Linked DNA regions of Homo sapiens. The protein of the gene in region 1 interacts with the protein of each later gene in a pairwise test. Each region holds a gene or a part of one and is shown in the gene's direction. Other genes may lie near its edges.

Evidence for each region.
Region 2: the proteins of ABHD15 (region 1) and WTAP interact in binary tests that used the Homo sapiens proteins (3 or more experiments, as listed by UniProt).

The regions. Positions count from the first base shown.
Region 1 is NC_000017.11:29,564,018-29,571,617, reverse strand, and holds the start of ABHD15 (protein ABHD15 precursor), read left to right. Parts: upstream 1-4,580; 5' UTR 4,581-4,651; coding exon 4,652-5,532; intron 5,533-7,600. Other genes in the region: TP53I13 (tumor protein p53-inducible protein 13), read right to left, coding at 1-27, 2,259-2,300, 2,532-2,600, 2,788-2,859. UniProt on the Homo sapiens protein: May regulate adipocyte lipolysis and liver lipid accumulation.
Region 2 is NC_000006.12:159,737,505-159,744,527, forward strand, and holds part of WTAP (pre-mRNA-splicing regulator WTAP), read left to right. Parts: intron 1-1,485; coding exon 1,486-1,541; intron 1,542-2,354; exon of another isoform or gene 2,355-3,938; coding exon of another isoform or gene 3,939-3,943; intron 3,944-4,583; coding exon 4,584-4,642; intron 4,643-6,160; coding exon 6,161-6,288; intron 6,289-7,023. UniProt on the Homo sapiens protein: Associated component of the WMM complex, a complex that mediates N6-methyladenosine (m6A) methylation of RNAs, a modification that plays a role in the efficiency of mRNA splicing and RNA processing.

The DNA.
Region 1 (7,600 bases):
GTGGTAGAGGAAGGTGACATCCTCAGCCTGGAGGAAAGGCACAGAGACATCAAAGCAGGCCCAGAGCCCTCCCAGAGAATCTCAAGTTCTCCCATCCAGGGGACCAGTTTAAAGGTACTCCCAGGATAGCTGGATGGCTCTTCTACCTTCAGGGCCCAGGAAAGGACAAAGGGCCCTGGGTATTGGCATGTACCCACTCTTGCCTCTGAGTGTTCCTTTCACCCTTCCTCTCCATCAAGTGCCACCCTTCAAAGCTCACAGCATGCCTGGATAATCCTGCCAGACTCAGACCACACTCTAGCCATATTTCCCTGCAGGTGTAACGATGGCTCTACAGGTCCACAATCCAAGCCATAAGCAACCCCCAAATGAAGACCATCGATCCAATCTATACAGTCTCCCAAGAGCATCCAAATACAGGGCAGGCAGGCAGCAGGTGCACAATCTCAGGATGGAAATACTCCATCAATCATTCATTATTCTTTGATTGAGTTGACTTGGTGCTCAGTGCTGTGCTAGATGCTGTGGGAGATGCCAAAGAACTCCTGGACTCTGCTTGCAAGGAGTGTGTGAGAAACTCAGGGAAACAACTAATGCAAATAAAACAGCAAACTAATAAAACTTAGTGATTAGTTGTTAAATTATCAGAGATAGATTCAGAGGAGGAGGGGAGGAATAAAGGCTGATGCCATCGGGCAGTGTCTCAGGGGGAGCTGATGCCAGCTGGGACTGGGAAGATGGCTGGGGGAGTATGGCAGGAGGGCAGGGAGCTGCACTCTCCGAGTCAGGATAGGCCAGGTGTGGAGGAGAATAAACAGGAGCAAAGGGGCTGTGGTAAGGGCGAGGCTGGCACTCATTTGTGTGGCAAACAGCCCGACACAACTGGAGAGGAACCAAGGATGTGGAGAGGTCAGACGAAGCTTACTTAAGTAAGGCCTGAAAAGCCAGGCCGGAGAATATGGCCACGATAAGGTGGGAAATAAGGAGCCATTGACAGTTTGTGAACAGAGGAATGACTTCATGAAAGGGCTGTTTGAGGAAAGGAATCTGATAGGTGGCGTGAGGCAACAACTCTTGGCCTGGAGCTATTACAGAGAATTTTTTTTTTTTTTTGAGACAGTCTCGCTCTGTCGCCAGGCTGGAGTGCAGTGGCATGGTCTCGGCTCACTGCAACCTCTGCCTCCTGGGCTCAAGCAATTCTCCTGCCTCAGCCTCCCAAGTAGCTGGGATTACAGGGGTGTGCCACCACGCCCAGCTAATTTTTGTATTTTTAGTAGAGACAGGGTTTCACCATGTTGGCCAAGCTGGTCTTGAACTCCTGACCTCAGGTGTTCCACCCGCCTCAGCCTCCTAAAGTACTGGGATTACAGGTGTGAGCCACCATGCCTGGCCAATTTAAGTTAGGTATTTCAGGCCAGGCATGGTGGCTCACACCTGTAATCCCAGCACTTGGGAGGCTGAGGCAGGCAGATCACTTGAGGTCAGGAGCTCAAGACCAGCGTGGGCAACATGGTGAAACCTCGTCTCTACTAAAAATACAAAATTAGCTAAGCTAGGTGGCACACGCCTGTAATCCCAGCTGCTCGGGAGGCTGTGGCATAAGAATTGCTTGAACCTGGAGGCAGAGGTTGCAGTGAGTGCCACTGCACTCCAGCCTGGGCAACAGAGTGAGATTCCATTTCAAATAATAATAATAATAAGTATTTCAAAGGAAAATTCAGAGGAGCTGGCGATGAAGATGGAGATGCTACCACGCAAGCTGAGCCCGCAGTGTGGAGCCTGGCAACTGGAGGCACACTCCTTGCACGATGCAGCTCTGTACTGTACACGGTGCTGGCACATACCCTCCCTCGCTGCTCACAGGTAGAGACAGAATTAATACCCTCTCCTACAGAAAGCTGGGGCCCACAAAGTCAGGAGACTTCCCGCTGTCTCCTCAGGGAGCTGGAGCCTGGGTTTTTTCCAGCTACTCTCAGAGAGAGTTCCACTCACAGCCACTTGTCCACAGAGCCAGCTACCCAACAGCATCCTGACACAGCATTGCAGATGACAGGCCTATGGCTCACTGTCTTTGAGCCATCTGTCCTGGGGCTGATCTGTCCTGGGCTTGGAGGTGGGGCAGAGAACTAGAACCCTGCCTCTGCCTGAGGGAAGTGGTAAGGAATGGGGCCGATCAGCAGAACAGGCAGCGAAGCCTGCTAGGAGCGCCTGTCTCCAGGCGTGGACACCAAGGGTGGTGGGCCCCTGCTTGTACTCACCTGCCCTGGGCTCACTCGTGTGTAGGTCACTCTTGGTGACACCTATACATGGGGAAAGAACAGAGCTTAGGGCAGTTGGGGGACTCCGTGTGTGTGTGGTGGGGAGGGGACGGCAGGCCCCAAGCGCCAGGCTGGGATGGAGAAGTTGGCTACTGAGGACTGAGGAACCGGCAGAGGTCCTCAGATGGTGACTGTGGAGGGTGCGGCGAGAACAGAGCGGGACTGGGCTAGCCTTTCACATCCCTCTCTCCCTGGGCCCTCCAGGGCTCCTACCTGCGGAGGCAGAGGCCACAGGCTCTCGGGACAATGGGCTCCCGCCTCCTCCGCCGGTCCAGCCATCACCTGTGGGTCCAAAGCGAAGAGTTGGGGCGCTGGACGCGGCGAGGCCCTGCCCTCTCTCTCCCCAGGCCCAGCCCGCCAGCGGAAGAACTCCGCGTCCCCCTCGGCGCGCCACTCCTTCCAGGACGAACTTTTGGCAAAGCGCTTTGAGCTCGCGGGCCGAGGCCTTCCCAGGAGCGGGTCACCTTACCTCGCTGGGACCCAGGAGCCTCGCGAGGGCTGCCAGGAGAAGCAGTTGGGGCGAAGGCGGAGGAGGCGCCATTCCAAGCGGCCCCGGGCCCGGCCCGCCGCCCAGCCGCTCCGCCAGCGAGGGAGCGCGCGCGCCCCGCCCCTCCAGCCCCAGCGCCCCCGCGCCGCCCGCGCCGCCCGCGCGTCCGTTGGCCCTGGGCTCGCGCGCGCCCCTCCCCAGACAGTGGGCCCCCGGTATCGCCCCGCCCCAATGCCCGCCCACAGCAGCGGAGTGTGCGCGCACGCGTCTTAAACCCGAAGCCGGAAAAGTTAAGTGTAGGAACCGGGTCAGCGCGCAAGGCTCAGTAGGGCAGGCGGGGGGCCCCTTTCCTCGTCCGGGGATTCGTCTCAGCAGGTCCCTGCAGTCTGTAGAGCAGCTGCACAGCTGCAGCGCCTGGATGAGATCGTGGAGCGGAGTGTAAGGCCGGAAATGGAATCCCTGTGGACCGGGTGGCCCAGGCTGGGGAGACGGGTACACTCCCCTGGCAAACCCGCTTCAGATTTGTCGGTGTGACCTGCAATGAGAAGAGGGGCAGAATCATGAAGTCAGGAAGAGCTGCTGAAGGGAGAGGGTCCCACCTCTGGAGCTTCGCCGTCGGCCCACCCCGCTCCCGCCCTCGCAAATAGGGTCCAACGCGGAGGAGCCTCGGGAGGTGTCTCCGCTCCCCAAACTCTCCAAACCCAGAAGCCCCGGGAGGCCGGAGCTAGCCGAGAGGCTGCTGTCTTCCCCACCTCCGCCGTCGCCCAGCGGTGGCAGGCGCGCGTCTAGAAAGAGATTGGTCGCCGCGAGATGGGGACGCCACAGGCCTCACCCCCAGGAGGTGCGCTGGCCGGCCCGCCCCGCAGCGGGGCGCTGGTTCTGGTTCCCTCTCCAGGATTTGGGGGGGAAACGTGGGTAGAGAGCGAGGGTCGAGATGCCTATCCCAAAGCTTGGAAACAGCGAGAACGTGTTATTTCCGTGGTCTCCCATGCACCCCGGTTTACGAGGCGTTCCTTGTAGGTCGGACGGGCATCCCTGTCGCAGGGCGCCTGAGTGTGTCCTTTTCTCCGACTGACTCTCGGAGGCTTGGGGCTGCTGTTTCTGGGGAAGCCACTCCCGGGCTGAGGATTTCCTTGATGTGGAGCCCCGAGCTCGCGGGGACGGGGGCGAGGAGTCCACGGGACCCGCACTGATGCAGGCGGGGAAGCAGCAGCCTCCCGCCAGCGGCTCAAGACGCCGCGCTCGACCTCTCTAGCCCAGTGCCGGACCCCGCCCAGCCAAGTTATTGCGGGGTTGCGGGGCCGGGCGGGGGAGAGCAGGGCCGCCCGAGGGCAGAGCGCGCGCGCGGCCGCCGCCCCACGGGGTCCCGGGAGCCGGCGCCCGGAGCTGCGACTTACTCACCTCTCCCTTCTGCTTCTTTTCATCGGCCTCTGAGGGCGCAGCGCCCAGGGTCTGGCGGAAGACCCTGATGACAGTCGGGTCCCCAAGCCTCGGCCTCCAGTCTCCCCACGTCTCCATGGCCAACACCGCTCTCCCCGGCTCGTGCCCTCCCCACTCCCTTCCGGCTGCCGGCGCGCCCTCCCTCCCTGGTGGCCCCGGCTCCTCTCACCCTCTGCTCCCACTTGTTGCAATTGCTGTACAAAGGGCCGGGGCGGGGGTGGGGGGCGGGCGAGGGCAGCCGGGCCCGAACTGGCTGCCTCTGCCCGGCCACGGCCAATCCAGAGCGCGCCCGCGCGGGAGGGCCCTGGGCAGCCGCCGCCGGCGGGCGGAGCCGCGGGCAAAGCGCGGAGCTCGCCGAGTAGACGGCCCCGCCGCCCGCTGCCCGCCGGGGCTCTCCAGCTTCGCCATGCCGCCGTGGGGCGCCGCCCTCGCGCTCATCTTGGCCGTGCTCGCCCTTCTCGGCCTGCTCGGCCCGCGGCTCCGGGGACCCTGGGGGCGCGCCGTCGGAGAGAGGACCCTGCCGGGGGCCCAAGACCGAGACGACGGGGAGGAGGCGGACGGCGGAGGCCCGGCGGACCAGTTCAGCGACGGGCGCGAGCCACTGCCGGGAGGGTGCAGCCTTGTTTGCAAGCCGTCGGCCCTGGCCCAGTGCCTGCTGCGCGCCCTGCGGCGCTCAGAGGCGCTGGAGGCCGGCCCGCGCTCCTGGTTCTCCGGGCCCCACCTGCAGACCCTCTGCCACTTCGTCCTGCCCGTAGCGCCTGGGCCTGAGCTGGCCCGGGAGTACCTGCAGTTGGCGGACGATGGGCTAGTGGCCCTGGACTGGGTGGTAGGACCTTGTGTTCGGGGCCGCCGGATCACCAGCGCCGGGGGCCTTCCTGCGGTGCTTCTGGTGATCCCCAATGCGTGGGGTCGCCTCACCCGCAACGTGCTCGGCCTTTGCTTGCTCGCCCTGGAGCGCGGCTACTACCCGGTCATCTTCCATCGCCGCGGCCACCACGGTTGCCCACTGGTCAGCCCCCGGCTGCAGCCTTTCGGGGACCCGTCCGACCTCAAGGAGGCGGTCACATACATCCGCTTCCGACACCCGGCGGCGCCGCTGTTCGCGGTGAGCGAAGGCTCGGGCTCGGCGCTGCTCCTGTCCTACCTGGGCGAGTGCGGCTCCTCCAGCTACGTGACAGGCGCCGCCTGCATCTCGCCCGTGCTGCGCTGCCGAGAGTGGTTCGAGGCCGGCCTGCCCTGGCCCTACGAGCGGGGCTTTCTGCTCCACCAGAAGATCGCCCTCAGCAGGTGGGTAACGGAGGCCGCAGACCAGCATGGAAAGAATAGAGGGCCTGAGCTGGCTAAGAATCAGAAACAGCTATGCATAGCATTGGAACAGGCGTGGGCCAGTTTGGGCAAAGTTCTCTGAACACATCTTCCAAAGCCTTCCAAACCCTGTAATCTAGACAGAACCGGGGAAGCGGGTTTAAAGGTCATCGATGGACTCAGCTAGTATCGCTGTGCTAGAGCAGGGACTCCTAACCCGGCCCCTTGCCTCATCTCGGCACCCCCTGCTGTATCCTAGCAATCTGAGCACCTGGCCCACGACAGCAGAGATACCTGACATTTACCACTTAGCCCACAGCTTAACAGCTCAGCAAAGAGCACTCTGGAAGCAATTGCAAACGATTATCTGCCCAGAATGTTTACTCACAGTCTCTGAGCCTGGAGGTGACAGGAATCAGAAATATGGTGGCATTTGAGGCCAGGTGCAGTGGCTCCCGCCTGTAATCCCAGCACTTTGGGAGGCCAAGGCAGGAGGATCACTTGAGCCCAAGAGTTTGAGACTAACTTGGGCAACATAGGAAAACCTGTCTCTACAAAAATTTCTTTTTTTAATTAGCCGGGTGTGGTGGCATGCATCTGTGGTCCCAGCTACTCAGGAGGTTGAGATGGGAGGATCACCGAAGCCCAGAAGTTCGAGGCTGCAGAGAGCCCTGGTCAGGCCACTGCACTCTAGCCTGGGTGACAGAGCAACACCCTGTCTCAAAAAAAAATGTTATATATATATATACACACACACGCATATATGTAGGCATTTATTAAAATTATTATTTTTTAAAAGTATTTTTTTTTTTAGACAGTCTCACTTTGTCACCCAGGCTGAAGTGTAGTGACATGATCTCGGCTCACTGTAACCTCCACCTCCTGGGTGCAAGCTATTCTCCTGCCTTAGCCTCTGAAGTGGCTGGGGACTACAGGCGTGCACCACCACACCCAGCTAATTTTTAATATTTTTTTTGGTAGAGACGGGGTTTCTCCATGTTTGCCAGGCTGGTCTGGAACCCCTAATGTCAAGTGATCCGCCTGCCCCAGCTTTCAAAGTGCTAGGATTACAGGTGTGAGCCACCGTGCCCAGCTGTTTGTTTGTTTTTTGAGGCAAGATCTTACTCTGTCGCCCAGGCTGGAGTGCAGTGGTGGAATCACCACTCATTGCAGCCTTGAGTTCCTGGGCTCAGGTGACATTCCTAGCCTGCACTCTGGCTTTCTTAGGAGATGGCAGAATGAGGTCGAAGTCATTATGGCAACAGTGTGGTGTAGCAGAAAGACCTGGGATGTGGGGGCCAGACCCCCACCTCAGCCTCCCGAGTAGCTGAGACTACAGGCACATGCCACCATGCCCGGTTAATTTTTGTATTTTTCATAAAGATGGGATTGTGCCATGTTGTCCAGGCTGGTCTTGAATGTCTAGACTCAGGGAATCCACCCGCCTTGGCCTCCCAAAGTGCTGGGATTATAGATGTGAGCCACTATGCCTGGTCAGAGATTAACATCTAATTTCAACTGTCTGAGGCTGGATTGAGCTATTCAAAAGACGGAGCTGCTCATCCTGGCCTCCTTGTCAGGATGCCAAGCCCTCTCCAGGGGTCTAGAAACAGCAAAGATGTTCCCTGTTACCCAAAGCAGTTGCTCTGAGGCCCCCATTTAGGAATCCACCCAGTAAATTAATGACCAACTCAATTGCTTCCTCTGCCAGGCAGCACACTCTCTAGGAATATCTGCCCCAGGTATACCTGATCAACATCACACTCATGTGACATTACCAGGACAGGATGTTAGTTTAAAAAGCAAAAATAAAAACAATGAATGCAACCTAAAGTCAAATGTGAATTATTAGCAGAGGTGTCACCTGCTGGTTTGGATACTCTGAGCAGCAAGTTCTTCTAGGAGCAGTTTAGTAGGTTACAGTTCATAGCAAGTTCTCCACAGAGGGCCAGAAGTTGAGGTTAGGAGAACTGTCAGCAGCTGTGAAGTCAAATGCTGCCCCTAGGGCACATAGACAGGTGCAGTGATGCTGTGAATGACAGGCCTAGTG
Region 2 (7,023 bases), on another chromosome or scaffold:
ATTTTCTGAGACAGAGTCTCACTCTGTTGCCCATGCTGGAGTGCAGTGGTACAATCTTGGCTCATTGTGGCCTCATACCCCAGCTTATGCGATCCTCCCACCTTTGCCCCCCAAAGTAGCTCAGACTACAGGTGTGCCACTACGCCTGGCTAATTTTTGTATTTTTTGGTAGAGATGGGGTTTTGCCATGTTACCCAGGCTGATCTTGAACTCCCGAGTTCAAGATATACTCCCGCCTCAGTCTCCCAAAGTGCAGGAGGCATGAGCCACAATGCCCAGCCAAAGCCTTAATTTTATACTGAGGTAGGAGAGGTATCTCACCTTTACAGCCTTTATTTGGTGTAGTGAATATACTGTTTCTCAATTTTTGAAGCATGTTAGCTTATGCCCTTCTTTCAGCTTTTTGTTTTGAAATAATTATAGATTCATAGGAAGTTGCAAATAAATGTACAGAGAGGTTCTGTGCAACTTTCACTGAGCCTGCTTCATTGTTAACACCTTGCGTGACTAGCAGACATCTCTAATAACTGTGAAAATCAGGGAATTGACATTGGTACAATCCACAGAGCTTATTCACATTTCACGTTATACTAGCACTGTTATTGGGGGAAGTGGGGAAGAGCTATATGCACTATTATCATGTCTAGCTTTGTGTAACCATCATTAATCAAGATACATATCTGAACTATCACCATAAAGCTTCATCGAGTTATTCTTTTATAGCCACATCTACCCCGTCCCTCTCCATGCCTGACCCCTGGCAACCACTAATTTATCTCCATTTGTATAATTGTTACTTCAGAGTGTTATATAAATGTAATCATGTAGTATGCATCTTTTTGAGACTATTTTTTTTCCTTCCACTTAGCACAGTTTCCTTAAGGCTTATACAAATTGTTTCATGTATCAGTAGTCCTGTTTCTTTTTATTGCTTAAAGTGTTCCATGGTGTGGCTGTATGATAGTTCAATCATTTGCCTGTTAAAGGACATTTGGATAGTTTTCAGTTTTTTAGCTTTTACAAGTAAAGCTGCTTGCATGTTTTCATTTCTTTGAGATACATGTTTAAGAGTGCAACTGCTGAGTTATATGGCACATTCATTTTTAGTTGTATTAATAAAAGGAACTGCCATACTTCTTCAGATACCATTTTTATATTCTCACCTGCAGTGTAGGAAACTTCAGTTTCTCTGAATCCTCACCAGCGTTTGGTGTTGCCACTAATTTTTATTTTAGCCATTCTAATCAGTGTGTGGTGATACCTGGGGTTTTAATGTGCATTTTCCTAATGATGATGCCCATTGTTAAGATACCAAATAGTTTACCTTAAAAAAAAAAAACTTTTGTAATAAAATACTTTTTCAAAAAATCATAATATGTACTGAGCCGTTTAAATCTCACACTTGGGAGATGTTTCATAGGTCTCATTATAGAACTTTGTGTCTTCAGGAAGAACACTAAATTCATATTGTAATTCTCTTTATAGGTTCGATTGAGTGAAACAGACTTCAAAGTTATGGCAAGAGATGAGTTAATTCTAAGGTAAAATGTTCTCTGTTCAAAAACAAAGTCTTTCTATAGAACATTATATTGTGACTCTACACTGTAATTGTCTTTGTGCCAGATATTGTTTTTAATGTTGTTCTATCCTCAAATAATTTAATGTACTTTTTGAGCATACTATGACCTATTTCTTATATTAACACCGAGGAAAACGTAACACTTTAAAGAACTACTAGGAAGCTATAAGTTTAACAAATATATGGCTTGTTTTGTGTAGTTTTTCCTTTCGTGTTTAACATTTGAAAAAGAAATGTAATCCTAAAAGATGCACTTATATTTATGGAAGAAATACATAATTTACTAATGAAGTGAGGTTACTTTTTCTTATTAGTGTGACCTTCACCAGCTCATATAACTTCATACTCTTCATTTTCTCATCTGTAAGTTGAAGAGGTTGGGTTAAGTTATTGTTAAAGGTGACTTCCAGTTCTGAATTTCTGCGGTTATCTTGTAAATGTCTTACAAAAGCAGATTGTCAAGTACAACGTATAATCTTTTTAGATTGTGTAAGAAATCAGGAAGTAGGATGTTCTGTGTTTTGTAATTTAAATATATTCTTTCTGTATTTTATTGCTATGGTTAGTAAGTTTCTTGATAACTTAGATAAAAATAAAATAAGTATTTTAACAGGCTGAAAGCGGAGGAGAGAAAAGATGTTTTGTGAGATAGGCTAACACAGATTTTGTTGTTTCCTAGAGTGTGACAATTTCCTACTTTCACCTTTGGACAGCTACTGTATTATGAACACACTTTTTACCTTTTTTTTTTTTTTTTTTTTTTTTTTTTTTTTTGCCATAATCTCATACATAGGACAGTTTCCATTGCATACCTTTGTCTTTCTGCACATAAAATTTAAATTTTTGTTATTCTAAAACACTTCTGTCTTATGCTGAAGTATATACTTAAGATACACTACTACTCAATGCTGGGTTTTTTTTTGTTTGTTTTAATGTGCATATAAATTATAATAGAGGTGAGGTGCTGCTCAGGCTGGTCTTGAATGCCTGGCCTGAAGTGATTCTCTCACCTTGGCCTCCCAAAGTGCTGGGATTACAGGCATGGGCCACCATGCCTGGCCATGATTTTTTTTTTCCCTGTCTCTGGCATTGTATACTTTTTTTAATGCCTTCTTACATAATTGCTCTGGTTAGTCTGTGCAGTCATTTTTTTGATTTAACTGTAGGAGGGGAAAAATCAGTAATCTTAATAAAGAATCATAGAAATGTTTTATTTTAAGATACCTTTAAGGTTTCTAAATCATATGCAGTGTATTTCCTTGAGGTCAGTTTAACATCTTTCCTTAGGGAATTCATGTAAGACTTTTAGGCGAGTTTTTTCTCTTTGATTCCCTTGGAGATTTTAAACCAGCTGCTACTTATTTAACTAGTCTGTGCCTTCTATCCTTGTGATATACATGTTCTTGCTTCAGTTTTTATATTTTTCTGTACTTCTAAAATAAATCGTTCTTTTATAGCCTCCACTGAAGATCTTTCTCTATACATCCCCAAATATTTGGTAAACTACGTGTCTTAGGTTGTAAGTGCCGTAAAAATAAAGCATGGCCTTGGCTGAACATCAGTGTTTACATAGAAAGTGGATTAGTTTGGTATTAGGAAGGTTTTTTTTTTTTCTTTTTTCTTTCTTTTTTTTTTTTTTAAGACAGAGTCTCGCTCTGTCACCAGGCTGGAATGCAGTTGCGCGATCTCGGCTCACTGCAACCGCCGCCTCCCGGTCAAGCGGTTCTCCTGCCTCAGCCTCCCAAGTAGCTGGGACTACGGGCATGCGCCACCATGCCCTGCTAATTTTTTTGTATTTTCAGTAGAGACGGGATTTCACTGTGTTGGCCAGGATGGTCTTGATTTCTTGACCTCATGATCTGCCCGCCTCGGCCTCCCAAAGTGCTGGGATTACAGGCACGAGCCTTTTTGTTCATTATGTTGTAATATTAATAACTCATGACAAGCCTGTTTTTAAGATTATAAAATGGTTTTCTAAAGCCAAATTTTAATTAATTGTACCTGAAGAGCAGCTTGAAAACATGGCTCTTAAGTATGCAGGATAGCAGACATTCAGGGCAGGGTGCTTTCCATTAGGAACTGCCTAATAAGACTAGGAAAAATCTTTATTGCTAAGAGGACCTAGCAGTGTATATATTCAGGGTAGAGAAGTATAATGAAGAACAACGGTCCCCTTGTATTCTGATAGCATATGGCATTTATGCAGGTTTCTGACAGTTAGATGTGATTGTTAAATTACAGTCTTGAAAAATGTTATATTCTCCCCCTGTGTTTACAGGCAGAAATTGATACTACCTTGAGAAGAGTCACATGGTATTTTCCCAAAAGAGCCAAGATAAAGAACCTTCAATTCTACATAATGAGGCACATTTCTAATATGCCTTTTGTTCTAAGTGGACAACATATGAAAGCAGCAGTGGGATTTTTTTTTCAGCTTCTATAATCCAGGATTATCCTGAACATCAGTGATATCAAAGTGAATCTGGGGTTTGATCTCACCCAGGGCATGCTTGGCATGTTCTCAGCAGAAAAAACCTTCTCTATATATCTCTTTTTACCTGTTTCCTGTAAAATGGGAAGGAATAATGAGGGACTATTTTATGATCAGTTAAACTAGATTTAGGCTGGGTGTGGTGACTCAGGCCTGTAATTTCAGCAGTTTGGGAGGCCAGGGTGTGAGGATCATTTGAGCTCGGGAGTTCAAGACCAGCCTGGGCAACGTAGTGAGACCCCATCTCTACAAAAAAATGAGCCATGTGCCTTTGGTCCCAGCTATACAGGAAGCTGAGGCAGGGACATCGCTTGAGCCCAGACCCTGTTTGCGCCACGCTGCACTCCAGCCTGGGGGACAGAGCGAGACTCTGTCTAAAAAAAACTAGATTTAAAATGAAAAATCCAGAAGAATGCTCAGTATTACTAAAATCTGTGAGTTTATAGATATCTTCTAGTTTATTTAATAAACTATTTTATCGTAACAACTAATGTATGGATTTTTTTTTATTAGATGGAAACAATATGAAGCATATGTACAAGCTTTGGAGGGCAAGTACACAGATCTTAACTGTAAGTTTGAGTTTTAGCTTCCTAAAGACTGAATAATCTCCTTTTGATTGTTAAAATCAAAAGGATAGTTGTTTTTATTAAAGCAAATGTAATTTTTCTCGTGTTTTATTATAAGAACTGTACATAGGCACTGTGTTGGGTGCAAGAAAATATAAAGATGAATGAGACACAGTCTCAGTCATTGGAGAAGACAGAGGTGTAATAGTCATGTAATGGCATGACTTAGCAAAATTATATGCAAGGTTCTGAATATAGATGCAGTAACTCAGAACTACTTGAAACTTTTCTTACTTGTCCCTAACCCCTTCTGCATAGGAATTTGACTTGAAGCATGAGTTACTAGTCTAGAAGAGAAATAAACAGAAGCAACCAGTAACAGATTTATGACAGCTTAAATCAATATATATAACTTAATAATATATACAGATTTTTTTAAATCTGCTGAAAATAACGTTTATCATTTTAAGCCATTTTAGTCTCACTTTTTACTGTTTGAATCACATACTATTTGTTGAGTATAAAAACCAATATATATTGTTTTGTAACTTCAGAAGGGTTAATACCCTGAAATTCTAATTTTGCGTGACTGTGTTACCCATAGAAGTCATGAACATTGTGAAAGTTTAAGGCTAGGCACAGTGGCTCACACCTATAATCCCAGCACTTTGGGAGGCCAAGGTGGGAAGATCACTTGAGCCCAGGAGTTTGAGACCAGCATAGGCAACATAGGGAGACCTTGTCTCTACAAAAAAAAAAAGAGTCAGGAGGATCACTAGAGCCCGGGAGGTCAAGGCTGCTGCAGTGAGCCCTGATTGTGCCACTGGACTCCTGCCTGGGTAACAGAATAAGATCCTGCCTCAAGTTTAAAATACAAATTGTCCAGCAGTTATTACTATTTTATTTATTTATTTGTTTGTTTGAGACAGGGTCTCGCACTGTTGCCCAGGCTGGAGTGCAGTGGCACAATCTGGGCTTAGTGCAACCTCTGCCTCCCAGGTTCAAGTCATTGACCTGCCTCAGCCTCCCAAGTAGCTGGGATTACAGACATGCATCACCACGACTGGCTAATTTTGTATTTTTAGTAGAGACGGTGTTTCACCGTGTTGGTTAGGCTGGTCTGAAACTCCTGACCTCAGGTGATCTACCTGCCTCAGCCTCCCAAAGTGCTGGGATTACAGGCGTGAGCCTCTGTGCCCAGACAGCATTTTTATATTAAATAGGTTAAAACATACTAATCAGGATTTTGTGAATACTGTATAACACAGATGTTTTCTGTCTTCTGTTGGGAGTAGATGAAACTATAAAAACATAATTTAGTTAGTAGTCATGGAGCACTATGACACCATTGTCTCCTAAAGGAGCTCTCGTGACCAGGAAGAAATTCGCCTGTTATAAAAGTAGTTAGGATGGAAACTAAAGACTTGATTAATTTTTTGACCCTAGTTCTTATTGTTCTTGACAGAGGTATTTAGAACTTGATCTTAAAATTGTATTTATAATTTTTTTTTGAATCATCAGCTAATGATGTAACTGGCCTAAGAGAGTCTGAAGAAAAACTAAAGCAACAACAGCAGGAGTCTGCACGCAGGGAAAACATCCTTGTAATGCGACTAGCAACCAAGGAACAAGAGATGCAAGAGTGTACTGTAAGTATTTCAAGTTATATAAATGTCTTTAGTTGAGGAATTGGTTTTTAGTCCACATTATTACATGTTAATTTTAAACATTTAATGCTAAATATAAGAGCTTATCTTTTATAGGTACGTATGCTTTGAGCTTTAAGAATACTAGATGAAAAATTTTGATAATGTCTCATTTAGACTGTTTTTTGTGGCCAAGAAGGCAAAGTTTTAAGTTTTTTTTGAAATTTTCATGCCTTATAAGTATTAGTTCATCAATTCCAGACATTTTTCAGATATCTTGGTGTCTGAGGATGTAATCAATAAAAGAACATTTGCTCTTTATTGCTTTACTTTCACTGATTAGGAAAGCCATCTGAGGACTTTATCTCTGTTCTCTTGTCCCCTCTGTGTATAGAACTGTTTTTCCTAGTGTCAGCAACCTCTTTAGTGTCTCCTTTTTAATTGTTAGAACTTTGATGTGTACTGTGTAGTATTTACTATGTCTACGTAGATCTGAAATCTAGTGACATAATTGATCATCCAGCTCTGGTAGTTTAGGCTCAATCTTACGGTGTAATTATACAAAATAATTAGAGGCAGCTGTATCCTTGTTTCTGATTTTAAAATCTGAATGTTTCTTCAATTCTTTGTGTACTCTCCCTTCATTTGGTACATATAGAAGTCTTCTTATGTGTTATTAAAGTCTTCTAAGATAGTATTCTGGTCATTGGAGACACCAAAAATCTATGGGCACAGTCC